2 separate regions of the Homo sapiens genome follow, and region 2 is linked to region 1. The links come from fine-mapping of genetic effects on gene expression. A gene starts in region 1. The other region holds a variant in brackets. All regions are shown on one strand. Distances are between the middles of the regions.

Region 1 (15,122 bases):
ATCCACCTACCTCGGCCTCCCAAAGTACTGGGATTACAGGTGTGAGCCACCGTGCCCGGCCTAGTAGTAATTATTTTAAAACACTTTGACATATTGCCTTTCAGAGTTTTTACTAGGCATATATTTGTTTAGAAATTTTTCTTTTATATAACTAAGTCAATCTAATATACTGATAATTGTTAATATTTCTTTATTTCCCTCCACATCTGGAATATATTACTAATAATTATATTGTTTTGTGTTTCCTTTCTTTTTTACACTGAACTATAATTCAGTAAGAATTTTGGTGAGGAATCTAAATTAATGAACCCAGACTGCAACACATTTTTTAAATGACCATATTATTTATTTATATATGTATATATGCACACATATATGTCTGTATATTTTTTTCCCAGGTAACTGTAATGACTATATATTTACCAAGGAAAAGCAAAGTGAACCCAGGTTTATGTATCACTGAATTTAAATGAAACATTTAAAACCTATTATAACTACTATACTTAAAATATATATACATACACACACACTCCTACAGTCAGTTAATTCCAGCTCCTCTCCCAAGGGAAAAAAAGCAATTAGTGAGAGACCTTTGGGGGATTGTTTTACCTACTCTCTTAACTCCAGCAGAGAAGAGGTGAATACTTTGAAAGCTCTATTCTTTATTTCAAGTGAGAGGAAAACATCAGCACTGAGAAATATTTTGTATTCTTTGAAGCTATTCAATTTAGAATTTTTTTCTTCTATCCATGTATAAACCCCAGGCTGTGCTCTGTGCTTTTCAACCAACGTCAGCTATAAATACAGTTCTTTTAGGATTCACTGCTAATTTTAAAAATGCTTGATGTAAAATATACTGTACCAACAGACAAGAAAAACCTCCCTGATTGCTCTTTGAAATCTTAAAGACTAAGTTCACCAAGGATGCTAATACAATCTATTTTTAACTCTATTGTGGGCTGGGTGTGGTGGCTCATGCCTGTAATCCCAGCACTTTGGGAGGCGGAGGCAGGTGGATCACCTGAGGTCAGGAGCTCCAGACCAGCCTGGCCAACATGGCGAAACCCTGTCTCTACTAAAAATAGAAAAATTAGCCAGGCATGGTGGCACGCATCTGTAGTCCCAGCTACTCAGGAGGCTGAGGCAGGAGAATCGCTTGAACCCAGGAGGCAGAGGTTGCAGTGAGCCCAGATCGCACTACTGCACTCCAGCCCAGGCAACAGAGTGAGACTCCATCTCAAAAAAAAAAGAAAAAAGAAAAAAACTCTATTGTGTAAGTAGTTACAGACAAATAGGCTTCTCAGAACCATGTTACTTATAAGTATTATCTGCTTTATATGCACTACTCACCAGAACCTTTGGAATTCTGGTAACAAGAGTATCCAGCTGATCTGTTGAAAAAATAAAGCATATAAATAATATGTAATAATTACAATGTTACAAGCACTGAACAACATATTTCAATTTTTTTTTTTTTTTTTTTTTTTTTTTTTGAGACAGGGTCTCACTTTGTCACCCAGGCTGGAGTGCAGTGGCATGATCTCAGGTCATTGGAACCTCTGCCTCCCAGTTTCAAGTGATTCTCCCACCTCAGCCTCCCAGGTAGCTGGGACTAGCGCTGCTACACCCAGCTAATTTTTGTATTTTTAGTACAGACGGTTTCACCATATTGGCCAGGCTGGTCTCAAACTCCTGACCTCAGATGATCTGCCTGCCTCAGCCTCCCAAAGTGATGGGATTAAAGGTGTGAGCCACTGCACCCAACCAACATATTTCAAATTTTAAAAAAGGATAGTGTTGCATATTATTTTTACTTTTCATGTTTCCATCAGAAATAATGTCTTACAAATTTTTTCCTATAATTCTGGTTAAATCCTAATGGCTCCAAGATTTTTTTCTTTCCTTTTTTAGAGATGGGGTCTCCCTCCTTCACCCAGGCTAGAGTGCAGTGTCGTGATCATAGCCCACCGCAGCCTCAAAATCCTGGGCTCAAACGATCCTCAGCCACCAAGTAGCCAGGACCACCAAAACGCCTGGCTAATTTTTGTACAGATGTGAGCCACCATGCCTATCCTGGGTCTTAATTTTATAGCTTCCTAATCTCATTCCTACAGTGAGCTCAATAAAGTAGTTGGGGCTCCTGGGCTATCCATGTGATTATCTTGCTGTCTTTATTTTTAATGAAGTGATTTGGGTATTGAAAAGACTGTTCTTTTTTTTTTTTCTTTTTTCTTTTTTGAGGTAGAGTCTTGCTCTGTTGCCCAGGCTGGAGTGCAATGGCGTGATCTCCGTTCACTGCAACCTCCGCCTTCCAGGTCCAAGCAATTCTCCCACTTCAGCCTCCCGGTAGCTGGGATTACAGGTGCCCGCCACCACGCCCGGCTAATTTTTCCATCTTTAGTACAGACAAGGTTTCGCCATGTTGGCCAGGCCGGTCTCAAACTCCTGACCTCAACTGATTCGCCCGCCTCAGCCTCCCAAAGTGCTGGGATTACAGGTGTGAGCCACCACGCCATGCCGAAAGACTGTTCTTTGAATAGTAATTAAGGTGTGCTAGAACTAATAAGTTGGTCTGTAATGTTTCTAATTTCGTACAAATTCTTTTTCTTTTCTAAACTTAAGACAAAACAACTGATCCTCATCCTGCAATTTATTCAATGACCAAGAGTTCATGGGCCAGGCGCCAAGTTTATAAAGTTTTTGTTATGAACTTTTCACCGCCGCTTCCTTTGCTATTTTATTCCAAGCCACCATATCGTTTTCTTGTATTCCAACTTCTTAATTCTACGCTTGCTCCTTCTAGTTTATTCTCCAACTAGCAACCAGCGTGATCCTTTTTAAGTAAAGTAAGATCACATCACTTCTCTGCTGGCAACCCTCCTGTGTCTTCCTTTCTCAAAGGTTGACTTTATAAGGTATGAGGGAGTTTTGAAGGAGTGATAGAGCTGCTCTGTATCTTTAGTGTGGCAGTGCTTACATAGCCATGTGCATTTGTCAAAACCCATCATATTATACATGAAAAAGTAAGACTTTAATTTGTGTAAATTATGCCTCAATAAACCTGACTTTAAAGAAAAAAAGTGCTGGGCACGGTAGCTCCCGCCTGTAATCCAGCACTCTGGGAGGCCGAGGCGGGTGGATCACGAGGTCAGGAAATCGAGACCATCCTGGCTAACATGGTGAAACCCCGTTCTCTACTAAAAATGCAAAAACTTAGCCAGGCGTAGTGGCACGTGCCTGTAGTCCCAGCTACTCAGGAGGCAGGAGAATCGCTTGAACCTGGGAGGCGGAGGTTGCAGTGAGCCAAGATCACACCACTGCACTCCAGCCTGGGTGACAGAGCGAGACTCCATCTCAAAAAAAAAGAAGAAAAAAAGTAAGGAGTTCCGGAGTTCCCATTAGTTAATAATGGGATTTTTGGCAGATCACTTCCCCTTTCAGATTAGTAAATATGACCGGAATTGATGATTTTTAAGACCCCTGCCAGTGCCAACATTGTATCATGTAGCATAATAAACCTGATTCTAGTTTGAAAATTTTATTTTGTATTTCTGGGAATATAAGCTTTTCATAAATTAGTCTTGGTTTGTGTTTTTTAATGGGGTTCCTTAAACCAAACTGAAGGGCATACTGTCTTTTTTTTTAATTGTAGTTTTAAGAGTTTGGATAAACTAAAGGAAGCATGGAGATGAACGACAGGCGGAGATAAAAGGAAAGGACAAACAACCTCTTTGTGCCTGTTTTGTCATCCATAAAGTGGGGATCATAATAGAACCTTCCAGGATTACAGGCTCATGCCCATCTCTACTAAAAATACAAAAATTAGCCAGGTACGTGGTGGCGCACACCTGTAGTCCCAGCTACTTGGGAGGCTGAGGCAGGAGAATTGCTTGAACACAGGAGGCGGAGGTTGCAGTTAGCTGAGATCGTGACACTGCACTCCAGCCTGGGTGACAGAGGGAGACTCTGTCTCAATAAAAAAAAAAAAAAAAATTCACGTATCTCCTGATACACCAGGATCCTGCAGTCGGCCAAGGACTGTGAAGAACAGAAAAGAAACCCAAGACTCCATCCCATCTTTAAGAAGTCTTCAGTAGCACCAGAGACAAAAAGGACGGCCATGCGGGCGGATCACGAGGTCAGGAGATCGAGACCATCCTGGCTAACACGGTGAAGCCCCGTCTCTACTAAAAATACAAAAAAGTAGCCGGGCGTGGTGGCAGGCGCTTGTAATCCCAGCTACTCCAGAGGCTGAGGGAGGAGAATGGCGTGAACCCGGGAGGCGGAGCTTGCAGTGAGCTGAGATGGCACCACTGCACTCCAGCCTGGGCAACAGAACGAGACTCTGTCTCAAAAAAAAAAAAACAAAAAGGATGGCCATGGGTGCAACAGGGGCCCTGACTGCGGGTTGTACTGAACGGCAAACATATCGCAGTTCTTGCTTTTAGGGAATAAAGTAGGGAGAGGAAGAGGAGGTAGAGTCTCCAGCAGTGACTTCAACAGCTCGCTGTCTTCACTATCTAGGAAATAGGTGTAAAAACCTGCTCAAAACGAAATAGATTTGTGAAAAAAGGAACTTCAGTGTGAAGAAAATGTCAAGATCAAGGCACCTCGGATATTCAGTCATTGGTCTCATTGGCGATTAGAAATCCTCGTTTGAGGTCGGGCGCAATGGTTCACCCCGTAATCCCAGCAATTTGGGAGGCCGAGGCGGGCGGCTCACTTGAGGTCAGGGGTTCGACACAAGCCTAGCCAACATGGTGAAACCACCTCTCTACTAAAAATACAAAAATTAGCCGGGCGTGGTGGCAGGCGCCTGTAATCCCAGCTACTCGGGAGGCTGAGGCAGGAGAATCACTTGAACCTGGGAGGCTGAGGTTGCAGTGAGCTGAGATCGCACCACCGCATTCCAGCCTAGGCAACAGAGCGAGACTGTCTCGCTCTCAAAAAACAAGAAAGAAAAGAAAAAAAAAGAAAAAGAAATCCCCGTTTGACAGGAAGGTGGCTCATGTCACTAGAGGGAAGGAACTGGTTTATGGGCCTGGATGCCCCCAGTTGAACCGGGGGACATCTTCCTCCTCTGTCCCTCCCGCCTCGCCTTTCGGTGGACACACAGTCCTGTGCCAGACAGCAAACGTCCCAGCAGGGCTCGCAGCGCCCCCTCGGGGCAGAGAGATGCACGCGGGCGACTGTCGCAGTCACCTCGTGGCCACTGCACCAAACGCTCCTCCGAAGCTTCCCTCAGAGACCCTCCCTCAACCGCGAGGCAGTCCTCCCCTCTGCCCTCTGTCCACAACAAAACTGCTCCCCGCCTCTCACTTGAGGGCACCGGGGCCAGCCCCCGAGACGAGAGGTCGGCCGCAGCCCTCCTCCACGGGGCTCACGACCCGGGGGCCTCACGACCCGGGGGCCCCATGCTGCCACCCTTACCCCGGGGCCCCCAACCTCACCCGCCGCCGCCACCCTCGGTCCCGGCCACAGCGGGCGGCTCTGCAGAAGAGCTACGCTCCGTCCAGTCGGACCCCGGACCCTGGCCGGGCATCTCCGCGGCGCCGAGACCGCGAGCCGTGTGCGGGAGCAGCTGTCCCAGCATCCCTCCCCCGACAGCACGCGTGCGTCAGGCTGCTGGTATTCCGGAGAGGCGGCTCGGATGCTGGCTTCTCGCCCCTCCGAAGCCGTTCGGACACTGCCCGAACAGCTTCGGGAGAGCGGGGCGGGCAGATCCGCGACCCCGGAGTTACGGTGGGGGAGGGGCAGGAGCGCTGCGGTCGCTGAGCGTTTGCACGTTTGCACCTCTCTGTGGAAGCAGTGCGTCACAGGAGGGAAATATACATGCTCCCCAAAACAAGAGGTGCCTTCCACTTCAGTATTCCAGATCCTCAGCACATTTGCAAATCGCGAGGGTCACCATACAGGTCAAACGTCTGCACGCAAACCACGGACCGAAGCACGTGGCGCAAGGATGCGGAGCTTTATCTGTTGTCCGTTATTACTCAGGTATCCAAGCTTAGACAGCATCCCAACGGCCGATTTCCATCAACTACTTTTGCGCACGCGCAAATCCTCTCCCTCGCCCCTCCCCTTTTTTCTCAGGACGCGTTTCTCACGGGATTTGGCCCGCGGGCTGCCCCGTAGTAGGAGGTGTGGTAGAACTGGAGGCGTAGAAAGAATGTGGATTGCGATTGGTTCGCACTTCACTTTCCCGGAGCTCAGTGGGCGTCGCGCGAAGGCTAAGGGAGTGTGGCGGGCGGCTCCGGGAGCCAACATGCCTCGGTATGCGCAGCTGGTCATGGGCCCCGCGGGCAGCGGGAAGGTGAGGATCTGCGGGGACAAGGAGAGAAAAGTAGGAGTTCGTGGAAGGCGGGAGATTGGGTCCTGAGGGAGTGAGCCGGCGGGTGTGTGTACTGGGAACCCTGAGACCCCACGCAACTCATTTCTGCTGTCTGGCTTCACGTTCTTTTTTGTTGTTGTTTTGAAAGGGAAATAATGGTAGTTGTTAATATTTATTGTATACTTAAGCCCCAGGCAGCAGATGAAACGCCTCGCTTATTTCTACAACAACCCTGTGAGAGAGATCTCATTTTTCTCATTTTACAGAAAACGAGATACAGAAAGGTTAATTAAGTTCTTTGCCCCGCAAAAAAATATAAATCCAGTTTTGTCTCAACTCCAGAATCCGGCCCTGTCTCGCTCCCAGGAGGGTAAAGTGGGGTCTCATTAATTACTGTTTCTCAGAACTTGGGACATGGACTTTTGGTATTTAAGGTGCTTTTAGGTGGTAGGTGGTACATGGACCCCACATTAAGGAGCATCAGATAATGTGTTAGGGAAATTGTTCCCTTTTCATTTCTCTTTCAGTTCTCAACTTCGCATTTAGGAGAAGTTGTGCTCGGTGCTAGTGTGTATCTTCAGCACTTCTTTAATCCCCAGGTCTTTTCAGAGAGCAGTTCTTAGTCTCAGAGCTTTTAATAGGCACCTGTATTTAGCTAAAAATAGAACATTTAAAGATTTTATATAATTTTATGTCTAATTTCACGTTATGTCAAATATAAGTGGTTTTCAGTTTACAGTAGGGATAAAATTTTTTCTTGTAAACAAATATTAAGGGAATGTTAGGAACATTCAAATACAGTGAGAATGGTGAAGATATGGATCAAATAACATATGTGTGGGAAACATAGCCAGGCGTGGTGGCTCACGTCTGTAATCCTATCACTTTGGGAGATGGAGGTGGACGGATCGCCTGAGCCCAGGAGTTTGGGACCAGCCTTGGCAACACGGCGAAACTCTGTCTCTACAAAAAAATGCAAAAATTAGCCAGGCCTGGTGGCAGGTACCTCTAGTCCCAGCTTCTCGGGAAGCTGAAGTGGGAGGATTACCTGAACCCAGGAGGTTGAGGCTGTGGTGAGTGGTGATCGTGCCACTGCACTCCAGCCTGGGTGACAGAGGTACTGTCGCAAAAAAAAAAAAGAAGAAGTGTGGAAACACTAGAGTCTGTGGAGGTGTTGTGTGGCCTCAGTCTTTAACAAACACATTGTTCTAAGCTGTTGACTTATTCTGGGTAAAAACATGTACATGTAACTAAGATACCTATGGCCTTTAACTTACCCAGAGTCTGTAGTCTTTTGGGGAAGACAAATAGATGACCTGTCAATTAAGATACAGTGTGATGTGGCCAGGTGTGGTGGCTTAAGCCTGTAATCCTCGCACTTTGGGAGGCTGAGGCCAGCAGATCACTTGAGCCCAGGAGTTCAGGGTCAGCCTGGGCACCATGGTGAAGCCCTGTCTCTACCAAAAATACAAAAATTAGCTGGGCATGGTGGCGAGAGCCTATAGTCCCACCTACTCGGGGGGCTAAGGCTGGAGAATCGCTTGAGCCTGGGTCAAAGCTGCAGTGAGCTATGATGGTGCCACTGCACTCCAGCCTGGGTGACAGTGAGACCCTTTGCAAAAAAAAAAAAGATACAGTGTGTGATGTATGGAGAGGGCATTCCAGACAGAGACAACAGTATGTGTAAAGGCACTGAGAGGACAGCATGATGGATGTTTTTTCTATAGTCTATTTTAATTTTTGGGCTGATTGTATTAAACAAGTATCTTTATAAGCTTTTGATGCTTACTATCAGAAACATTCCTTGAGTACGTTCTTTATCCCAGGCACTGTTTTGGGCCCTGGGGGTTGTATGGGGAAAAAAACATGCACACACAAAATCCGTGCCCTTGTGGAGCTTATCTTTAAACATAATAAGTCAATTAGAAACAATTATCAAGTATTTATTATGTACTAGGTATTGCGCTAGTCCCTGTGCTTGGGAAACTGAATAAGACACATCTCTGCCTTTAAACAGAGTATGACACAGACAAGTAGCCTAGAGACTTTTTTTTTTTTTTGAGCCAGGAGTCTTGTTCTGTCATCCAGGCTAGAGTGCAGTGGTGTGATCTCAGCTCACTGCGACCTCTGCCTCCCGGGTTCAAGCGATTCTCCTGCCTCAGCCTCCTGAGTATCTGAGATTACAGGCATACGCCACCACGCCCAGCTAATTTTTGTATTTTTAGTAGAGACGAGGTTTCACCATGTCGGCCAGGCTGGTCTCCAACTCCTGACCTCAGGTGATCCGTCGACCTCAGCCTCCCAAAGTACTGGGATTACAGGTGTGAGCCACTGCACCCAGCCCGAGATGTTAACATAGTACGGTAACAACTACATAATGGATAAAGAATTATCTAAACCAAAAGTTACAAACTGATAGCCACCTCCAGACTATTTATTGATCTTGGCGTTCTTTCATCTTGGAATGCTCTTCCCCTTAGGTTGGCAAACTCCTTCTCATATACTCATATCTCCCCTACTCAGAGACATCATCCCTGACCATCCTACCTAAAGCTTTGTTTGCACTGTACAAGTCCTGGTAGAGACACTGTGTTAGGTGTTACACTATGTAACCAGAACTCTTCCCTTTAAATACCGCTTGTCACATTTAGAACAGTAAGGAGCCTTAGTGATTATGGAGGACATCCCAGTTAGAGACACGAAAATTGAAGGGCAGAGTGGAGAAGTAAATTCCCCAGAGGTACCCATGAGTCTAAGTCAGGTTTGAATCTGCAGCCCAGTCAGGTATCTTTTTCCCTTGTTGTCAGTCAGCCTCTTGGTTGATGAAGGCATAGTTTTGACCTTAGTGGATAGTATTCCAGAGTATGGAAGGTAGCACTACACTACCTGTTGCTTTAACCTCTCATGCCTTGTGACATTACAGAGCACCTACTGTGCCACCATGGTCCAGCACTGTGAAGCCCTCAACCGGTCTGTCCAAGTTGTAAACCTGGATCCAGCAGCAGAACACTTCAACTACTCCGTGATGGCTGGTAAGTCCTGAGCAAAGGCTCCCCCCACCTTCAGGAACAGTAAGGGCTGGGGAGGCAGTGAGTACTAGCTGCTTAGCACTGATACTTATTATAGTCTGGATCCCTGGTGTTATGGTAAATAGCATGAGCTTGTCATTTGGTCACATCTGTTCATGGTGATATGTGTGACAGTATCCTTTCTTGGTCTTTGATGTAAGATTTAAAAGTAAATGGGGCCGGGCGCGGAGGCTCATGCCTGTAATTCCAGCACTTTGGGAGGCCGAGGCGGGTGGATCACGAGGTCAGGAATTTGAGACCAGCCTGACCAACATGGTGAAACCCTGTCTCTACTAAAAACACAAAAAAATCAGCTGGGTGTGGTGGCATGTGACTGTAATCCCAGCTACTCAGGAGGCTGAGAAAGGAGAATCGCTTGAACCCAGGAGACAGAGGTTGCAGTGAGCCGAGATTGCGCCACTGCACTCCAGCCTGGGCAACAGAGCGAGACTCCATCTCAAAAAAAAAAAAAAAAAAAGTAAATGGACACTTCCCTCAGCACCCTTTCATTCTGTCCCTTTTGTCCTTAGTCCTGCTGTAGTGAATCATGTGGTATATTGCTGATCACTATAAGTCAGGAGCCTGGGTTTGTTTTTTTTAATTCTTTCAATTTGTTCATTCAAGTGTCTGTTGAACACCTGTTTTACGCCAGACACCGGAGTTATAGCAGAGAATAATACAGACATTATCCCTGCCCACACCAACCCTTTAGGAAATAGGCAATAAACAACATGATGAACATGTTACAGAATGTGATGACTGCAGACAGGCTCATGAGAAGTACTCATTGAGGTTGCTTTAGCTAGAATTGTCAGGGAGAATGGTGACTCTGAGGAGGGGATCTTTGAGCCTAGACCTGAAGGATGGTAATATGCTCCTCAGGCTGAGGAAAGTCCTTCCAAAATGAGGGAACATTTAGATCAATAAATATGCCAAGCTGGGTGCAGGGACATGTGCCTGTAGTCCCAGCTACTTGGGAGGCTGATGTGGGAGGATCACTTGAGCCCAGGAGTTCAAGTCCAGCCTGGGCAACATTGCAAGATCCATCTCTGAAAAATAAAATAAATAAATAAATAGCCTGGAGGTGAGAAAGGATTTGGTATTCTCCAGGAAAGCTAAGATGTCAGTGAGCTAAAGCGTAATGTCTGAAAGAAAGAAGTGGGTAGGGGCTAACAGGACATGATAAGATGGGATTTTATCCTGTTGTCAGTGGGGTGCCACTAGAGGGTTTTAAGAAGAGGAAAGGATTGACATTTGATACACGTTTTGGGGTTTTTTTTTTTTTTTGAGACAGGGTCCAGCTCTGTCGCCCAGGCTGGAGTGCAGTGACACAACCTCTGCCTCCTGAGCTCAAGCCATCCTCCCATCTCAGCCTCCCAAGTAGCTGGGACTACAGATGCGTGCCACCATGCCTGGCTAATTTTTATACTTTTTTTTTTTTTTTTTTTTTTTTTTTTTTTTTTGTAGAGACAGGGTTTCACCATGCTGCCCAGGCTGGTCTCAAACTCCTGAGCTCAAGCAATCTGCTGGCCTCAGTCTCCCAAAGTGTTGGGATTAGAGGCGTGAGCCACTGCATCCGGCCTTTTTTTGTTTTTGTTGTTGTTGTCGTTTTGTTTTTGAGACAAGGTCTCACTCTGTCACCCAGGCTATATAGTATAGTAGCCTGATCACAGCTCATTGCAGTCTCAACCTCCTGGACTCAAGCAATCCTCCTACCTCCCAAGTAGCTGGGACTACAGGCACACACTATCATGCCTGGGTAATTTTTGTATTTTTTGTAGAGGCGGGGTTTCTCCATGTTGCCCAGGCTGGTCTCATTGCCCAGGCTGGTCTCGATTTCCAGGCTGGTCTCAAACTCCTGGGCTCAAGTGACTCACCCAGCTTGACTTCCGAAAGTGCTGGGATAATAGGCATGAGCCACCGCACTTGGCCTGATTTATGTTTTAAAAAATAACTCAGGTGCTCAGATGAAAAATGGACTCTAGTGGGTTGAGAGTAGAAGTACAACCTGCATGGCTGGGCATGGTGGCTCACGCCTGTAATCCCAGCACTTTGGGAGGCCGAGGCAGGCGGATCACAAGGTCAGGAGATCAAGACCATCTTGGCTAACACAGTGAAACCCCGTCTCTACTAAAAATACAAAAAACTAGCCGGGCATGGTGGCGGGCGCCTGTGGTCCCAGCTACTGGGGAGGCTGAGGCAGGAGAATGGCGTGCACCCGGGAGGCGGAGCTTGCGGTGAGCCGAGATCGCGCCACTGAACTCCAGCCTGGGCAACAGAGCGAGACTCCGTCTCAAAAAAAAAAAAATACAAAATTAGCTGGGTGTGGTGACACATGCCTGTAATCCCAGCTACTCTGGAGGCTGAGACAGGGGAATCGCTTGAACCCGGGAGGCAGAGGTTCTGGTGAGCCGAGATCGTACCATTGCACTCCAGCCTGGGCAACAAGAGCAAAACTCCATTTTAAAATTAAAAAAAGAAGTACAACCTGCACTGCCGCTGTTGTAGTTAGCCAGGTGTACACCAGGACTAGGGTGGTCACGGTGGAGATGTAAGGAAGCAGACAGATTCAATATATTTTGCAAGTTGAATTAACAGCATTTTGTGGGGGATTGAACCAAGAAGGCATAGCAAAGTAAGGAATCAAGGGTGAGGTCTTACAGCTTTGTTCAGTGTATGATATAATTTCCTGTGGAGGGAGACAGGTCGTTTTAGGTTTGGGGACGTTCTCTTTGCACTCACTAAGTGCAAAGGGAAACTTCTGATTTCTGTTAATGAGTGAGCAGGTTGCGGGGAGGCAGATTGAAGGGAGAGGAGGAGATGTGAAATGCTTTTCTTTGAGAAAAAAGGCATTGTATTACTTTGGAACCATTTGGCTGCAGCAAACAGAAACCACTCTAAGCTAGCTTAGTTAAAAAGAGGACTTAGGATGGGCGCTATGACTGACACCTGTAATCCCAGTACTTTGGGAGGCCAAAGCAGATGGATGGCCTGAACCCAGGAGTTCAAGACCAGCCTGGGAAGCATGGTGAAACCCCATCTCTACAAGTCAATACAAAGATTAGCCTGGCATGCTGGCGGGTGCCTTTATTCCCAGCCACTCAGGAGGCTGAGGTGGGAGGATCACTTGAGCCTACGAGGTCAAGGTTGCAGTGAGCCATGATTATGCCACTGCACTCCAGCCTGGGCAGCAGAGTGAGACCCTGTCTAAAAAGAAAGAAAGCCAGATTGATTGTCCCAATTTGGATCAGTTATCTGTTATTGATTGCTGAGGGAGGGGGTAGGAAGGTGTTGTCAGTATAAATGTGACTGTGAATGAAGCTCAGTCCTTTGTGAATGGAGAATGTAGGTTTGAGCACAAAAATAAGTAAAAACCTAAGGTAGAAGATTCTATATACTGATTCCCCAAAATTAGTAAGATAACCATACCAGAATTTTTTAAGCCTCTCCTGTTGGTGATTTTTTTTTTCCTGAGACAGTCTCTCTCTGCCACCCAGGCTGGAGTGCAGTGGTACCATGTCATCTCACTACATCCTCTGCCTCCTGGGTTCAAGTGATTCTCCTGCCTCAGCCTCCCGAGCAGCTGGGATTACAGGCACATGCCAGCACACCTGACTAATTTTTCTATTTTTGTTTGTTTTTGTTTGAGATGGAGTCTTTTTTTTTTTCAATTTTATAACTTTATTTGATGTATTTGACGATCAGTGATTAGTTCTCATCGACATTGTCTGTAGATTTTTGAAAGTGGTGACAGGTACATAGGTAACCAAAGTATATGGCTTATTTGGTGAATCTTCATCCTCATTACGTTTTCTGGACAGCTGCACACGGATTCAGTATGGGACATTCCTTATTCCTTTGGCCCAGACAGCTTTGTTGAGCCTGGTATCAATGCGCACATCTGGAGTTCCCATCTCCTTCATGGCAAATTTCTGAATCTCTTTGAGTGCCTGAGGGGCACGCTTCTTGAAGCCCACTCCATAGATGTGCTTGTGAATGTTGATGGTGTATTCTCGGGTTACCACTTCGTTGATGGCAGAATGGCCCTTTTTCTTCTCGCCACCCTTCTTTGCAGGAGCCATTCTGCTGGGTCCAAGTTGGAAAGTGAGATGGAGTCTTGCTCTGTCGCCTGGGCTTGAGAGCAGTGGCGTGATCTTGGCTCACTGCAACCTCTGCCTGCTGGGTTCAAGTGATTCTCCTGCCTCAGCCTCCGGAGTGGCTAGAACTACAGGCGTGCGCCGCCATGCCTGCTAATTTTTGTATTTTTAGTAGAGATGGGGCTTCACCATGTTCGCCAGGCTGGTCTCGAACTCCTGATCTCATGATCCCCCCACCTCGGCCTCCCAAAGTGCTGGGATTACAGGCATGAGCCACCATGCCCAGCCTAATTTCTATATTTTTAGTAGAGACAGGTTTCAGCATGTTGGCCAGGCTAGTCTTGAACTCCTGACCTCAAGTGATCCGCCTGCCTCATCCAAAGTGCTGGGATTACAGGCAGGAGTCACCGCACCCAGCCCCTGATGGTGATTTTGATATATTATCTCATAGTTCTCATCCTTCTAACCCAGGATAAGGAAAGTGAGGCTCAAGGAGGTGAAATAGTTTCCTTAGTGTCATTGTGTTAAGAAATGGTAATCTGTTTTCTTTTTTTGGTTTTGTACTTTTTTGGAATAGGTAATACATATTCACATGGTTCATAATGTAAAAGTACTAAAGAGTAAGTATACAGGAAAACATCTTCCTCTCAGCTCTGCATCCCAGCAATCAGCTCCCCTCCCTGGCAGCAGCCAGTGTTACCAGTTTCTGGTGTGTTCTTTCATAGCCTGTGCACATAAAATTCAAGATGTATATGTATTATGTCTATGTAGTGAATTTTTGTCTTTTATTAACACCAATGATAGCATTCTTACACAGTTCTGCACCTTGCATTTTTCACTGAACAATATACCTAGGAGATTGTATTATTATTAATACTTAAAGAGATTTTCCCCATTTATGGCTGTGTAGTATTCCATTGTCGGGCTGTACAATAATTTATTTGCTCAGTTCTCTATTGATGGACACTGCTACAGGGAAAAGCCATGTACATAAATAATTTCCTGCATATGGGTTTTTTATGTAATTATTAACTTTTATGTTCTATTTCTAGTAAGGATAACAATTTTTGAAGGGACACATATATTCTGGGCCCTATCTGTCCTTTTCAGACATCCGGGAACTGATCGAGGTGGATGATGTAATGGAGGATGATTCTCTGCGATTCGGTCCCAACGGAGGATTGGTATTTTGCATGGAGTACTTTGCCAATAATTTTGACTGGCTGGAGAACTGTCTTGGCCATGTAGAGGACGACTATATCCTTTTTGATTGTCCAGGTGAATCAACAATTTGAATGCATTGTCTTCCTTAAAGTCTTGATAGTTCCATCCTTAGTAGGAGAAAGGAGAGTGAGTATTTGTAGCTCTAAACTATACTGCAGTAAAGTACCAAGCTTATTCAATGGCTGTCACTTACTAAGTATATCTGTTGAGGCCGGGCGCAGTGGCTCACGCCTGTAATCCCATCACTTTGGGAGGCCGAGGCAGGTGGATCACGAGGTCAGGAGATCGAGACCATCCTGGCTAACATGGTGAAACCCTGTCTCTACTAAAAATACAAAAAATTAGCCAGGCATGGTGGCGGGCGCCTGTAGTCCCAGCTGCTCGGGAGGCTGAGGCAAGAGA
Region 2 (15,122 bases), 160 kb before region 1:
CTAGGGGGCCATTCTGCAAACTCTTGGAGGCTCCTGAATGGAGAGGAGCATAGGGGAGCACAGGCTGCAGGCCAACTGCATGGGGTCCATTCCTGTTCCACCACCACCTGAGTGAGCCTGAACAAGAAACTGTACATCTCTGTTTCCTGCTCTAAAAAATGGAGATACTAACCTGGCCTCAAGGGATTACAGAGAGTATTTAAGGGAAAACACATACAAGCACTTAACACAATACCCAGCACACAATATGTGCTTAATAATGGTTAGCTGTTGATATGCTTTAGAACTTTCCAACAACTGGAAGTGTTAAACAATTGAGTGAGCTGTTTTCAGGTAGTCAGTTCCCCATCACTACAAGTGCTCAAGCAGTGACTGCATGTGGTAGAAAAGACTGGCCCTGGGTGAGAAATTGAACTACGTGACCTTTGAGGCCTCTTTTAACCCGAAGATTCTGTTTTTAGTTACGAGGCCTGTTTAATGATGACTACTACAAATGTAAAGTATTAAGTTGGTGCAAAAATAATTGCGATTTTGGTCATTACTTTTAATGGCAAAAACCGCAACTACTTTTCCACCAACCTAATAATAACAGCAAATGTCTAAGGAAAGAAGAATGACCACTTTCTTACCTGCAGGGTTATTATCAGTGCACAGAGATGATGTCAGGGACGAAGGAAATCTCAGAAACGAATCTGAAGTCTGCAGAGGAACCCCATACTGCAAACACAACAACCAACAGTCGTTATGGTGTAATTAAAGTATTCATTCAACACTTACTGGGCACCCACAATGTGCCAAGCAGCACTGCAGGCATCAGAGACACACTGATGAGCAAAAAACAGATGTGGTCCTTGCCCTCAAGAAGCTCACATCTAGTTGTGTCGCCATTTTTAAAAGGATGTGTTTCTGTATGTGCATGTTACTGTATTTGCAGGCTTCTTAGTCATGGAATTCCTCTGGAAGGGTACATGAGACAATGACATAACGATCTGCCTCTGCAGACAGGAACTAGGTGGCTGGACACAGGGTTGAGAGAATTATTTTTCGCTAGCATTAATTATTTAAATAACATATACAGTATACATTAAAATCATAAAAATCAATTTTTTATAAATCAGTTTTATGAAAGAATGCCTTCTTTCCCAAAACCAAACCCCACAAAATTATTTTCCAATCTTCAAAACCCAGATTAATAGCTATTAGGCTTATAGCCAATTTTCTCGAACTTGAAAGTTTATCCAAATGCTTTAGTGCCAGCAGGAGTATGGGAAACAACTCCTTCCACTCACTGGAGCTGGGAGTGTAAAGCACTGCAATTTTTCTGGAGGGCAATCTGGTATCAATATTTAAATTTTCCATTCATTTTTACCAAACTAACTCATTTATAGGAATGTATCCTAAGGATTTAATCAGTGAAGTGTACAAAAATGTATGTATATATGAGAATGTTCATTGTGGATAACAGCAAAAACTGGAAACATGTCTGTTAAGAGTGGAACAGCTCAGATACATACACAGAAAATAATATTTTGGCTTTGTTTGTTTGTTTGTTTTTGAGATGGAGTCTTGCTCTATTGCCCAGGCTGGAGTGCAGTGGCATGATCTCAGCTCACTGCAACCTCCGCTTCCTGGGTTCAAGCGATCCTCATGCCTCAGCCTTCCAAGTAGCTGGAACTACAGGCACGCACCACCACGCCCAGCTAATTTTTGTATTTTTAGTAGACATGGGGTTTCACTATATTGTCCAGGCTGGTGTGGAACTCCTGACCTCAAGTGATTTGCCCGCCTCGGCCTCCCAAAGTGCTGGGATTATAGGCGTGAGCCACCATGCCCAGCCAAGAATATTTTGTAAACTACAGCTCTAGGGCTGGGTGCAGTGGCTCACATCGTAATCCCAGCACTTTGGGAGGCCGAGGCGAGCGGATTACCTGAGGTCAGGAGTTCAAGACCAGCCTGGCCAACATGGTGAAACCCCGTCTCTACAAAAATACAAAAATTAGCTGAAGACCAGCCTGGCCAACATGGTGAAACCCCATCTCTACAAAAATACAAAAATTAGCTGATCATGATGGCAGGTGCCTGCAATCCCAGCTACTTGGGAGGCTGAGGTGGGAGAATTGCTTGAACCTGAGAGGCGGAGGTTGCAGTGAGCCAAGATCACACCACTGCACTCCAGCCTGGGCGACACAGCAAGACTCCATCTCAAAAACAACAACAACAACAACAACAACGCAGCTCTATCACTAGTTCTGACAAGTTGCTTTCCTGTGCCTAAGTTTTTCTCATCAGGTAAATGGAGACAATGGTGCATCCCTCCCAGGGGGGTGCATGAAGTAATGCCTGAAAAGCTCTTCACAGTGCCTGGCACATGGAAAATGCTCAATGGTAAATTTTATATTGACATGGGAAGATGCACATGATTTATCACTGAAAAAGGAATTTTCTAGAACAATGTGGATACCTATAAATCCCACTTCTATACAACACCATATATACATTATAATAGACATATTTAAAAATCAGGAAGAATACACACCAATCTCTTCAAAGTGATTTGCAGTATGAATATTAATGGATACAGGGATCTTTCAACTTATATGCCTCTATATGTTGAACTTTTAGAACTAGTACATGTTGCTTTTATACTTTGCTTTTAAAAAGATGCTTCCAAAAGAGTTAAGGTTCATTCAGTTAATATGTGTCCCATTTAAAGGTGTACTACTGAATAGACATAAAACAGCACACATCTTCCAAAATCTGTAAAACTAAATACAATTTTGAGAAGATGACCAGACAACCAACCAATCTACTCCATGATCTCAGCAACATGCCTCAAGCATTTTGCTGCATCTTTTAAGGTTGAGGAGAACAAAGAACTCTGAAGAGACAAAATACAAGTTTATCACAGAATAAACAACCTTAAATCCTCTATTCAGAATTCAAATATTCAGTTTTATTTTTATTATTATATTTTAAGTTCTGGGATAACGGGTGCAGAACATGCAGGTTTGTTACGTAGGTATACACGTGCCATGGTGGTTTACTGCACTCATCAACCCATCATCTACATTAGGTGTTTCTCCTAATGCTATCCCCTCCCCTAGCCCACCACCCTCTGACAGGCCCCTGTGTGTGATGTTCCCCTCCCTGTGTCCATGTGTTCTCATTGTTCAACTCCCACTTATGAGTGAGAACATGCGATGTTTGGTTTTCTGTTCCATGTTAGTTTGCTGAGAATGATGGTTTCCTACAAAGGACATGAACTCATCCTTTTTTATGGCTGCTTAGCATTCCATGTTGTGTATGTGCCACATTTTCTTCACCCAGTCTATCACTGATGGACATTTGGGTTGGTTCCAAGTCTTTGCTATTGTGAATAGTGCTGCAATAAACATACGTGTGCGTGTGTCTTTATAGAATGATTTATAATCCTTTGGGTATATACTCAGTAATGGAATTGCTGGGTCAAATGGTATTTTAGGTTCTAGATCCTTGAGGAATCGCCGCACTGTCTTCCACAATGGTTGAAATAATTTACACTCCCACCCAACAGTGTAAAAGCGTTCCTATTTCTCCATATCCTCTCCAGCACCTGTTGTTTCCTGACTTCTTAATAATCGTCATTCTAACTGGCGTGAGATGGTATCTGATTGCAGTTTTGATTTGCATTTCTCTAATGACCAGTGATGATGAGCCTTTTTTCATAGGTTCGTTGGCCACTTAAATGTCTTCTTTTGAAAAGTGTCTATTCATATCCTTCACCCACTTTTTGATGGGGTTGTTTTTTTCTTGTAAATTTATTTAAGTTCCTTGTAGATTCTGGATATTAGCCCTTTGTCATATGGATAGATTGCAAAAATTTTTTCCCATTCTGTAGGTCACACGTTCACTCTGATGATAGTTTCTTTTGCTGTGCAGAAGCTCTTTAGTTTAATTAGATCCCATTTGTCAATTTTGGCTTTTGTTGCCATTGCTTTTGGTTGTTTTACTCATGATGTCTTTGCCCATGTCTATGTCCTGAATGGTATTGCCTGGGTTTTCTTCTAGGGTTTGTATGGTTTTAGGTCTTACATTTAAGTCTTTAATCCATCTTCAAATATTCAGTTTTAATTTTCATGATCTTTGATTTGTAGGCATGAACATTAAGTTTTTTAGTCTATAATATCAACTCTGTCTCAAGGAACCCAGTTTTCCTGGTAACCTTGAAAATTAACTTACAAGGAAAGATATTTGTGATGGGATGAAAAGAATCAATCAAGTTCAGGCTCACCTCATATTTAGCAGCAGTAGGAATATCCAGTTTGGTTGTGAAGGAAACATATGATTCAGCATTCAATGTAAAACCATCAGATGTTTTCATCAATGTATCAAAATTGTTTTCATCAGGTACTTCTGGATTAATAAAGGATAATGCAGGTTTATCTGTTTTTTAAAAAAAACAGTATTTTAAATCGGTATAAAATATATGTATAATATGTATGACCTATATAAAGGTTTTGGAAAGTTTTTAATAGCATCAAGGCTGATGTAAAAAACAAATAGTGTCTTGGCTGGGCGCATGGGCTCACGCCTGTAATCTCAACACTTTGGGAGGCCAAGGCGGGCGGACTGCCTGAGGTCAGGAGTTTGAGACCAGCCTGGCCAACACGGTGAAATCCTGTCTCTACTAAAAATACAAAAATTAGCCAGTCATGGTGGTGTGCACCTGTAATCCCAGCTACTCGGGAGGCTGAGGCAGGAGAATCGCTGAAACCCAGCAGGCAGAGGTTGCAGTGAGCTGAGATAGCGCCACTGCACTCCAGCCTGGGTGACACAGTGAGACTTCATCTCAAAAAAAAAAAAAAAAAGTGTATTTTTCCATATTCACTTCTCCCAGGATTTTTTAAAGCTTATTAAACAAACAGGACCTCCAGACTCAGCCTGCTTCTTCTAATAATGGGGAAGTAATAGTTTGTAGCACTTACAAGTAAACAGCACAACAGAAGCCAATAATAATCCGTCTATTTCTCTAGCCCCTGGACTGATGAGTTTGCTGTATCAACCTGTAAGGAGAAGCTCTCTCCGGATGGCTATGGGAATGAAAGAATCCGACTTCTACTCTCACACAGCCACCGTGAAAGTCCTGGAGTAAAATGTGCTGTGTACAGAAGAGAGAGAAGGAAGCAGGCTGGCATGTTCACTGGGCTGGTGTTACGACAGAGAACCTGACAGTCACTGGCCAGTTATCACTTCAGATTACAAATCACACAGAGCATCTGCCTGTTTTCAATCACAAGAGAACAAAACCAAAATCTATAAAGATATTCTGAAAATATGACAGAATTTGACAAATAAAAGCATAAACGTGTCTCTGATCTTTGATATCCTGATAACATTTTACATGTACATGTACTTTGGATCTAGACATATATTTGAGCTAAATGCTCAGATAAAAATAAAGATCCTGTTTTCATGCAAATATTCTTAGTAAAAATAAAAGAAAAAAGGAAATAGAAACCACAGGTAATGTTCAAAGCTGAGCCTGATTTTCAACCATTAAACCAGGAGGAAATAAAGTTAAAAAAACACATGTATATATAGAAACCTAGATTCCTATGTATGTCTGCATATTATAAACACTTTTAAGATAAGTATACGGTTTCGAAAGACAACTACACAATCATAATTACTTTTAAAGAAAATGTGCATGCCCACAGGTCTATAAAGTTACTTCCTATTACCTGTGAAATGGTCTCTAAAGATATACACTATACATATAGCAAAACAGAATAATTGCTTTAAATCTAACTGAGGGCTGGACAAGGCAGCTCACACCTGTAATCTCGGCATTTTGAGAGGCCGAGGCAGGAGGATCATTTAAGGTCAGGAGTTTGAGACCAGCCTCGCCAACATGGTGAAACCCTGTCTCTACTAAAAATAAAAAATTAGCTGGGTGTGGTGGCAGGTACCTGTAATCTCAGCTACTCGGGAGGCTGAGGCAGGAGAATCACTTGAACCCGGGAGGCAGAGGTTGCAGTGAGCTGAGAACGTGCCACTGCTTTCCAACCTGGGCAACAGAGTGAGACTCTGCCTCAAAAAAAAAAAAAAAAAGAAAGAAAGAAAAAATAGTAATAATAGGGCTGGGCACAGTGGCTCACACCTGTAATCCCAGCACGTTGGGAGGCCAAGGCAGGTGGATCACCTGAGGTCGGGAGTTCAAGACCAGCCTGACCAACATGGAGAAACCCCGTCTCTACTAAAAATACAAAACTGGCCAGGCATGGTGGCCCATGCCTGTAATCCCAGCTACTTGGGAGGCTGAGGCAGGAGACTCACTTGAACCCAAGAGGCAGAGGATTTGTGATGAGCCGAGATTGAGCCGTTGCACTCCAGCCTGGGCAACAAGAGCGAAACTCCGTCTCAAAAAAAAAAAAAAAAAAAAAAAACCACGCACACACAAAAATTATCCAGGCATGGTGGCAGGCACCTGTAATCCCAGCTACTCAGTAGGCTGAGGCAGGAGAATCACTTGAATCTGGGAGGTGGAGGTTTCAGTGAGCCGAGATTGCGCCACTGCACGCCAGCCTGGGTGACAGAGCAAGACTCTGTCTCAAAAAAACCATAATCATAATTATAAAATAAATCTGACACATTTTTCCATAACTTTGAGAAAAATTTTCCAGAGCTTCACAAAATATATCAATGTCAAATACTTACAGTTTGTAATATGAATGCAGAAAATAGATGGATTAATCTGGTCAACAAGTTCAAATACTCTTTGAGGTGGGTTTGCTGTAAAATTCAATGAATAGATGACTGCTTTTTGACTACAAAACTGGCTGTCGCCCCTGAAAATTAAAAAAATAATAATACAAAGTTACAAGACATAAGCACACAATCTTAGCAAAATTATTTTAAAACTGTCAGATGCTTGTACTGTACTATGTTAACAGTTACGTGGAGGATATTTATGAAAGCATGACGTCCCAGCTACTTGGGAGGCTGAGGCGGGAGAATGGCATGAACCCAGGAGGCAGAGCTGGCAGTGAGCCAAGATCGCGCCACTGCACTCTAGCCTGGGCAACAGAGCAAGACTCTGTCTCACAAAAAAAAAAAGAAAGAAAGAAAGAAAAAAGAAAGCATATTAGAATTGAATCCGGCTGGGCACGGTGGCTCACACCTGTAATCCCAGCACTTTGGGAGGCCGAGGTAGGCGGATCACAAGGTCAGGAGATGGGGACCAGCCTGGCCAAGATGGTAAAACCCCATCTCCACTAAAAATACAAAAATTAGCTGGGCGTGGTGGTGGGTGCCTGTAATCCCAGCTACTAGGGAGGCTGAGGCACGAACATCGCTTGAACCCAAGAGGCAGAGGTTGCAGTGACCCGAGATCGCGCCACTGCACTCAAGCCTGGTGACAGAGTGAGACTCCATCTCAAAAAAAAAAAAAAAATTGAATCCTTTTTTTTGAGATGTAGCCTCACTCTCCCAGGCTGGAGTGCAGTGGCACGATCTCGGGTCACTGCAACCTCTGCCTCTTGGGTTCAGGTGATTCTCCTGCCTCAGCCTCCCGAGTAGCTGGGACTACAGGTGTGCACTGCCATGCCTGGCTAATTTTTGTATTTTTATTAGAGACAGGGTTTCACCATGTTGGCCAGGCTGGTCTCAAACTCCTTACCTCAGATGATCCACCTGCCTCAGCCTCCCAAAGTGCTGGGCATGAGTCACCACAGCTGGCTGAATCCATTTTTATTTAGTTTATTCTGTGTTGAAATATTTTGCATTTGGGCCAGTCACAGTAGCATGCACCTGTATTACCAACTACTCAGGAGGTTAAGATGCAAGGCTCACTTGAGGTTAGGAGTTCGAGGCCAGTCTGGCAACATAGTGAGATCCTCATCTCTTTTTAAAAAAGAAAAAGCTTGGCATTTAAAACTTTTTCCTCTAACAGAAAAAAACAAAATTGAGACAAGTAGAATAACCTTTAAGGAAATCTTGTCAAGAACGTAGATCAGGGTATAATTTTTATGTCAGTGAACTTTACAAACTCTGATAGCATCAATTAGATAAAATTTTGCAGACCTTCAGATTGTTTAAAAGTACCCAGAATAGATCCAAATTCCTTGTCTTTAGAATAAAGCTGTCTTCAAAGGACTGTGAGA[G/A]TAAGAAAATGTGGAGTCATCTGGAAGGTTTAATGCTTAGAAGTTATGGTACAGGGCCAGGCACAGTGGCTCATGCCTCTAATCCCAGCACTTTGGGAGGCCGAGGCGGGTGGATCACCTGAGATCAGTCGTCTGGAAGGTTTAGTGCTTACAAGTTATGGTACAGGACCAGGCACAGTGGATCATGCCTGTAATCCCAGCACTTTGGGAGGCCGAGGTGAGCGGATCACCTCAGGTCAGGCATTCAAGACCAGCCTGGCCAACATGGCGAAACCCTGTCTCTACTAAAAATACAAAAATAAATTAGCCAGGCGTGGTGGCATGTGCCTGTAGTTCCAGCTGCTGGGGAGACTGAGGCAGGAGTATTGCTTGAACCTGGGAGGTTGCAGTGAGCCAAGATCGTGCCACTGCACTCCAGCCTGGGCGACAGAGTGAGACTCTCTCTCCCAAAAAAAAAAAAAAAAGAAGTTATGAGTTAAGTCTTCAACCAATCCCAGATTTGACAAATCCCAATCAATTTGCTATAGATACAGATACAGGCCAAGCACCATGGCTCATGCCTGTAATCCCAGCATTTTGGGAGGCTGAGGAGGATCACTTGAGGCCAGGAGTTCAAGACCAGCCTGGGCAACACAGACCCCTATCTCTACAAAAAACAAAGAAAAAATTAGTCCGGCATGCTGGCAGATGCCTGTAGTACTAACTACTTGGGAGGCTGAGGTAGGAGGACTGCTTGAGCCCAGGAGCAAGGTTACAGTGAGCTATGATCGTGTCACTGCACTCCAGCCTGGGTGACAGAGCAAGACCTATCTCAAAAAAACATAGAGGCTGGGCACAGTGGCTCACGCCTACAATGCCAGTACTTTGGGAGGCCATGGCAGGAGGATCACTTGAAGCCAGGATTTCAAGACCAGCCTGGGCCACAAAGTGAGATTTTGTCTCTAAAAAAAAAAAAAAATAGACAGATAGCTGGACAGACAGATAATAGTATAGAGATAGTCATAATAAAAATGGGACCATATTCTACATACTGTTTTAAGGCTTTTCTCACTTAATATATAATGCCTAATATGCACTTACAATATTATAAGTGGCTTCATCATCGTATACCAGCCTATTAATACCCCAATTTGTTTAACCAATATAGATATGGATATGGTACAGCCCAAGCACCGTGGCTCATGCCTGTAATCCCAGCATTTTGGGAGGCTGGGGAGGATCACTTGAGGCCAGGAGTTCAAGACCAGCCTGGGCAACACAGACCCCGATCTCTACAGAAAACAAAGAAAAAATTAGCCCGGCATGCTGGCAGATGCTTATAGTTCTAACTACTTGGGAGGCTGAGGTAGGAGGACTGCTTGAGCCCAGGAGCAAGGTTACAGCGAGCTATGATCGTTGGTTTAGGTTTAGGTTTCTAATTTTCCCCAATTATATGTAATGCTATAATGACAACCTTATACATACATCTTTATGACTGTCTCCAGTTGTTTCCTTAGGATATGTTTCCTGAACTGGAACTGCTAAACCAAAAGGCAGGTAACATTATTTAAAGCTTCTGAGACACACTCCCAGATTGCCCTCTAGAAGGGCACAATATACATTCTCACCAACACTGTAGTAAGAGTGCCTATTTCCCTGTACCCTTGCCAAGACTGGATATTATCATTCCGTTTTTACTGGGCCTTAAAGGATAAGTAGAAATCAGACAGACAGTAGGAATGGGAAGCAAATCCAAGTGCAAGAACGGCAATGGCCAAGGCTGGGTAACGACTCATGGTCTTTGGGAAACTCTGAGTACCAAGGTTGGGCTGGAGTGGATTTGAGATGGCTGGTAGCAGGTGATAGGCTCTGAAAGAAGGTGGGAATGAATCTGAATCCAGGCTAAGAAGCCTATAGATAATGAGAACTTCTGAAGGTCTTTTAGTGAGTGCTTGACAGGATGAGGTGTGAGCTCATAAAGCAGGAGCAGGGATGGACGACCACGAGGGCTAGAGTGATGGAAGGCTCCACAGAATGGGATTCCTTACTCCCCTCCAGTCAGCCACCTCCCCAATCCTGTGCAGTATTTCAGTATCATCATCAGATCTAGATACTTCTCCCTAGCCCCACTGTCACAGCTTTTGGGGAGGATGGGGAGGGAAACCGTTAATCCGCATCTGCAATAGCTTTTTACTTGGTTCTCTGCCACCAGGCTTGGCCTTGTGATCCACTGCATATGATGCTGCAGAATTACATAAGATGGGAATCTGATCCTCTTACAACCCAGGCCCTGTGGACTTCAGGACAGAGTCCAAACCCCTTAGCATATACACAAGGCCCCTGGGGACCTGACCCCTGATCTCTTTCCTACACTCCTCTCACCCCACCCCTCTTCTGGCCACACTGAGTTACCTGCAGTTAAGCAGGCCATCCCACATCCCCCCATCTCTGTCCACGCAGTTCCCTCTGCCTGGAATGCCCTTCCCCTCAGTCCATGCTGACCATCTTCCACGTGTCCTTCAGGACCCAGCTCAGCTCCTGTTTTCTGGGGAGCATTCCTTAGTGGGGCTGAGTTAGATGCCATTCCTCTGCCTTCTCATCGTGCTTGATGTAGAAACTGCCATCCACTCCTCTGTCTCCCTTACTCGACGGTAAGCTCTTTGAAGGCAGGAGAGTGCCTAACTCATCTTTATGTCCCTGGTGCTGGCATTCAGGAGGTACTCAAGAAAGGTTGGGAGAAAGGAAAGACTGCTGAGACAGGAAAAGGAAAGGAAGAGGCAAGGGTCAGGGGAGCCTCCAGGTTTTTGGCCTGGTGTCGGCCTAAAAGACTAATGGTAGAGGAAGTCAACAAGGGACACTAGGAAATCAGTTAGAGGTGGAAGGGAGAAATTCATTCATCCATTCAACTCATTATTATTATTATTATTTTTTTTTATGGAGTTTCGCTCTTGTTGCCCGGGCTAGAGTGCAATGGTGCGATCTTGGCTCCTGCAACCTCTGCCTCCCAGGTTCAAGCGATTCTCCCACCTCAGCCCCCTGAGTAGCTGGGATTACAGGCACCCACCACCACGCCCAGCTGATTTTTGTATTTTTAGTAGACACGGGGTTTCACTATCTTGGCCAGGCTGGTCTCAAACTCCTGACCTCAAGTGATCTACATGCCTCAGCCTCCCAAAGTGCTGGGATTACAGGCGTGAGACACCATGCCCAGCCAATTCAACTCATTCTTAACGAGGGCCCACTATGTGGCAGGAGCTCTACTAGGTACTAATGGTTAAGGAGAAAAGAGATCTTCCAGGTTAGGCGCAGTGGCTCACGCCTGTAATCCCAGCACTTTGGGAGGCCGAGGTGGGCGGATCACGAGGTCAGAAGTTCAAGACCAGCCTGGCTAACACGGTGAAACCCTGTCTCTACTAAAAATACAAAAAATTAGCTGGGCATGGTGGCACACGCCTGTAGTCCCAGCTCGTTGGGAGGCTGAGGCAGGAAAATTGCTTGAAGCCAGCAGGCAGAGGTTGCAGTGAGCCGAGATGGAGGCACTGCACTCCAGCCTGGGCAACAGAGCAAGACTCTGTCTCAAAAAAAAAAAAAATAGCCCCAAGTTGGAGCAAAAATGTCACTTTCAGGCTCCTGTATTTACTAAAGGGAGGAAAACAGAATGACTTTCAACAAATACTGAAACATGCTACAGGCCAGGTAGCCAGAAAATTAATCTGACTACATTGCCCTGTTCTCTGAGCATTTTTACAATACTAGAAATAGGCTCAAAATCCCATTGGTCAATAAAATAGTTTCTCACAGGAAAAACCCATTGTACTTCTTAAAAGGGTTCACCTATCAAGTATCAATTGCTAAAACTTGCTATAAGGCTAAATTTAAATTAGCTATCTCTGAATACTAAGTTGGTCCCATCCTGAATTAATGAGCCTCTTCTAAGTGCTCCTAGTTTTTCAAAAAGCCTTGAAGCTGGGCGCGTTGGCTTACACCTGAAATCCCGGCACTTTGGGAGGCCAAGGAGGGCGGATCACCTGAGGTCAGGAGTTCGAGAGCAGCCTGACCAATATGGTGAAACCCCACCTCTACTAAAAATACGCCAGGCATCGTGGCGTGCACCTGTAGTCCCAGCTACTCAGGAGGCTGAGACAGGAGAATTGCTTGAAGCCAGGAGGCGGTGGTTGCAGTGAGCCACTATCACACCACTGCACTCCAGCCTGGGCAACAGAGCGAGACTCCATCTCATAAAAAAAAAAAAAAAAAAGAAGCCTTGAAACCTCAATTATAAGAGATCATTCAGAACAGATTATTTATTTACCTTATAATCAGCTGGAAATGTCATTTTTCATTGTTCTATACAATGCGAACTGTGAGAATTCCTGGTAGATTTACATATCAGAAAAGTACAGATTTCTTATCTAATTTTTTGTTACAAATACTATGTCCACAACAAAAGCTGTGAAATTAAAATGCACTTTTCACCCTAGGCTATACTAATTCACTGATACAAAAAATGTGACCACTGTCTACAACTCAAATTGAAATGTAATTCAATCTTCAAACACAGAGGTTTCATTACATTATTTTAATGTATATTCTCTCTTCTCTTTTGCCTGCACAGTCACCTGGCTGAATGCAAATAAGGGATAGCTACTTTTTTTTTTTTTGAGACTGAGTCTCGCTCTGTCACCCAGGCTAGAGTGCAGTAGCGCAATCTCCACTCACTGCAAGCTCTGCCTCCCGGGTTCACGCCATTCTCCTGCCTCAGCCTCCCGAGTAGCTGGGACCACAGGTGCCCGCCAACATGCCCGGCTAATTTTTTTGGATTTTTAGTAGAGACGGGGTTTCACCGTGTTAGCCAGAATGGTCCCAATCTCCTGACCTCGTGATCCACCCACCTCAGCCTCCCAAAGTGCTGGGATTACAGGCGTGAGCCACTGCGCCCTGCCAGGGATAGCTACTTTTTTACATATTTGTTTGGACGGTATGGCTTCAGAACGACGTAAAACACTGGAAATCAGGTTTGGGTTTTTAAGCCTGGGAAAGTTTTCCCTTTCTCCAAATTGTATTATCCTGGTCAAATTTTTTCAAAATTGCATGTGTCATACGTAAACTTACGTGACAACTGGAACTGAGCAGGCAGAAAAGACACTGAAATCCACGGAGCTGCAGTCGGGATCACAGCAGCAGTTGATGTCACACTGTGCTGGGGATAAGTCACAGACACAGAGAACAGCAACTGCAGAAAAAAGAGGGGTAGGATCCAGAACATCACCATCAGCAGGTGGTGACTGCCCCCTGCCACCACAGTGTACCATAAGTCAATTTCATAAAAAAGATCCATTTTATTTTTCCTATTGCACTTTGGGGGAAATTTGTGAAGTGGAAATGAGTCAGTTTGAGCATCCCACAATCAGAGGTTTCCCCAAAGTGGCTAATGATCTGACTCGCTTGGAAAGTTCTGTTAGTGCTTTGCCTACAGAGATGCTGATTTCGTAAGCTGAATATGAAACCCAGGCATTTGCAGTTTTCAGAAACTTTCCAGGTGATGCTTATAATTAGACAAGTTTAAGAACAAGCACCCCTAAACCATTTGCCTGACCATAAGAACCACCAGTTTAAAACTCCAAAGTCCTTAAGCCCCTCCTCTAGAGATTACGATTCAGAGGAAGGGCCCACTTAAACCTTCAGGAAAGAGACTTTTCAATCTTGCCCCCTCTTCACGTATAACCTGCTGCTTTAAAGCTGAACTCATATTCACAGACCCTTGGCCAAGAATCATACCGGCTCAGGTGCTCAGAATGTCTTTGGTGATTTAGACAATAAGGTATGAGGGCGGGGTAGGAATCTCCCCCACCTCACAACTTTTAATTATTTTATTTATTTATTTATTTTTTAAAGGAGTTTCGGCTCTTGTTGCCCAGGCTGGAGTGCAATGGTGCAATCTTGGCTCACTGCAACCTCCACCTCCTGGGTTCAAGCTATTCTCCTGCCTCAGCCTCCTGAGTAGCTGGGATTAAAGGCATGCACTACCACGCCCAACTTTTTTTTTTTTTTTGTATTTTTATTAGGGACGGGGTTTCACCATGTTGGCCAGGCTGGTCTCAAACTCCTGACCTCAAGTGATCTGCCAGCCTTAGCCACCCAAAGTGCTGGGATTACAGGTGTGAGCCACCACTCCTGGTCAACTTTTAATCATTAATAAGGATGATTTTTCTTTGCCGCTTTGCAACAAAGATGATTATCTGGATTTTTAATTCTCTATCTTATTCTGTCAAATAAGGACAAGAAAACCCTTTTAAAAAATAGAGAATGAATTTATAGTTGCAATTATTGCTGGAAGGGAAGAAGTAAGATCAACCTTCAATCTTATCTGTAACGTTTTCTTTTTCAAAAGAAGATTTCAAACCAGGCACGGTGGCTCACATCTGTAATTCCTGCACTTTGGGAGGCGGGCAGATCACTTGAGGTCAGGAGTTTGAGACTGCCCTGGCCAACATGGTTAAACCCTGTCTCTATTAAAAATACAAAAATTAGGCTGGGCGCGGTGGTTCATGCCTGTAATCCCAGCACTTTGGGAGGCCAAGGCAGGCGGATCACAAGGTCAGGAGATTGAGACCATCCTGGCTAACACGGTGAAACCCCGTCTCTACTAACAATATAAAAACTAGCTGGGTGTGGTGGCGGGCACCTGTAGTCCCAGCTACTGGGGAGGCTGAGGCGGGAGAATGGCGTGAACCCAGGAGGCGGGGTTTGCAGTGAGCCGAGATCGCGTCACTGCATTCCAGCCTGGGCGACAGAGCGAGACTCCATCTCAAAAAAAAAATTCAAAAATTAGCCAGGTATGGTGGTGGGCGCCTGTAATCCCAGCTACTCAGGGAGGCTGAGGCAGGAGAATCGTTTCAACCCAGAAGGCAGAGGTTGCAGTAAACTGAGATCACACCACTGCACTCCAGCCTGGATGACAGAGTGAGACTCCATCTCAAAAAAAAAAAAAAAAAGATCTCA

The links.
Region 2: its variant is fine-mapped to the expression of GPN3 in whole blood (INTERVAL, PIP 0.96).

The regions. Positions count from the first base shown.
Region 1 is chr12:110,459,347-110,474,468 of GRCh38, reverse strand. GPN3 (GPN-loop GTPase 3) reads left to right here and starts at 6,212. Exons shown (of 8, transcript NM_016301.4): 1 at 6,212-6,313; 2 at 9,255-9,363; 3 at 14,607-14,774. The coding sequence starts at 6,266. FAM216A (family with sequence similarity 216 member A) reads right to left here and starts at 5,624. Exons shown (of 7, transcript NM_013300.3): 1 at 5,451-5,624; 2 at 1,351-1,391. The coding sequence starts at 5,593. It overlaps LOC124903016 (a long non-coding RNA gene), which reads left to right. Exons shown (of 3, transcript XR_007063459.1): 2 at 3,653-3,830; 3 at 4,018-4,180. It also overlaps the pseudogene RPL31P49. RefSeq lists enhancers at 4,881-5,050, 5,971-6,100 and a silencer at 5,251-5,560.
Region 2 is chr12:110,618,067-110,633,188 of GRCh38, reverse strand. TCTN1 (tectonic family member 1) reads right to left here. Exons shown (of 15, transcript NM_001082538.3): 2 at 13,233-13,353; 3 at 6,697-6,827; 4 at 4,271-4,422; 5 at 630-717. It also overlaps the pseudogene RN7SL387P. Among named protein-coding and RNA genes, the nearest start is that of TCTN1, 11 kb to the right of the region's middle. RefSeq lists an enhancer at 13,437-13,656. The variant G/A (reference allele first, on the strand shown) is at 8,142.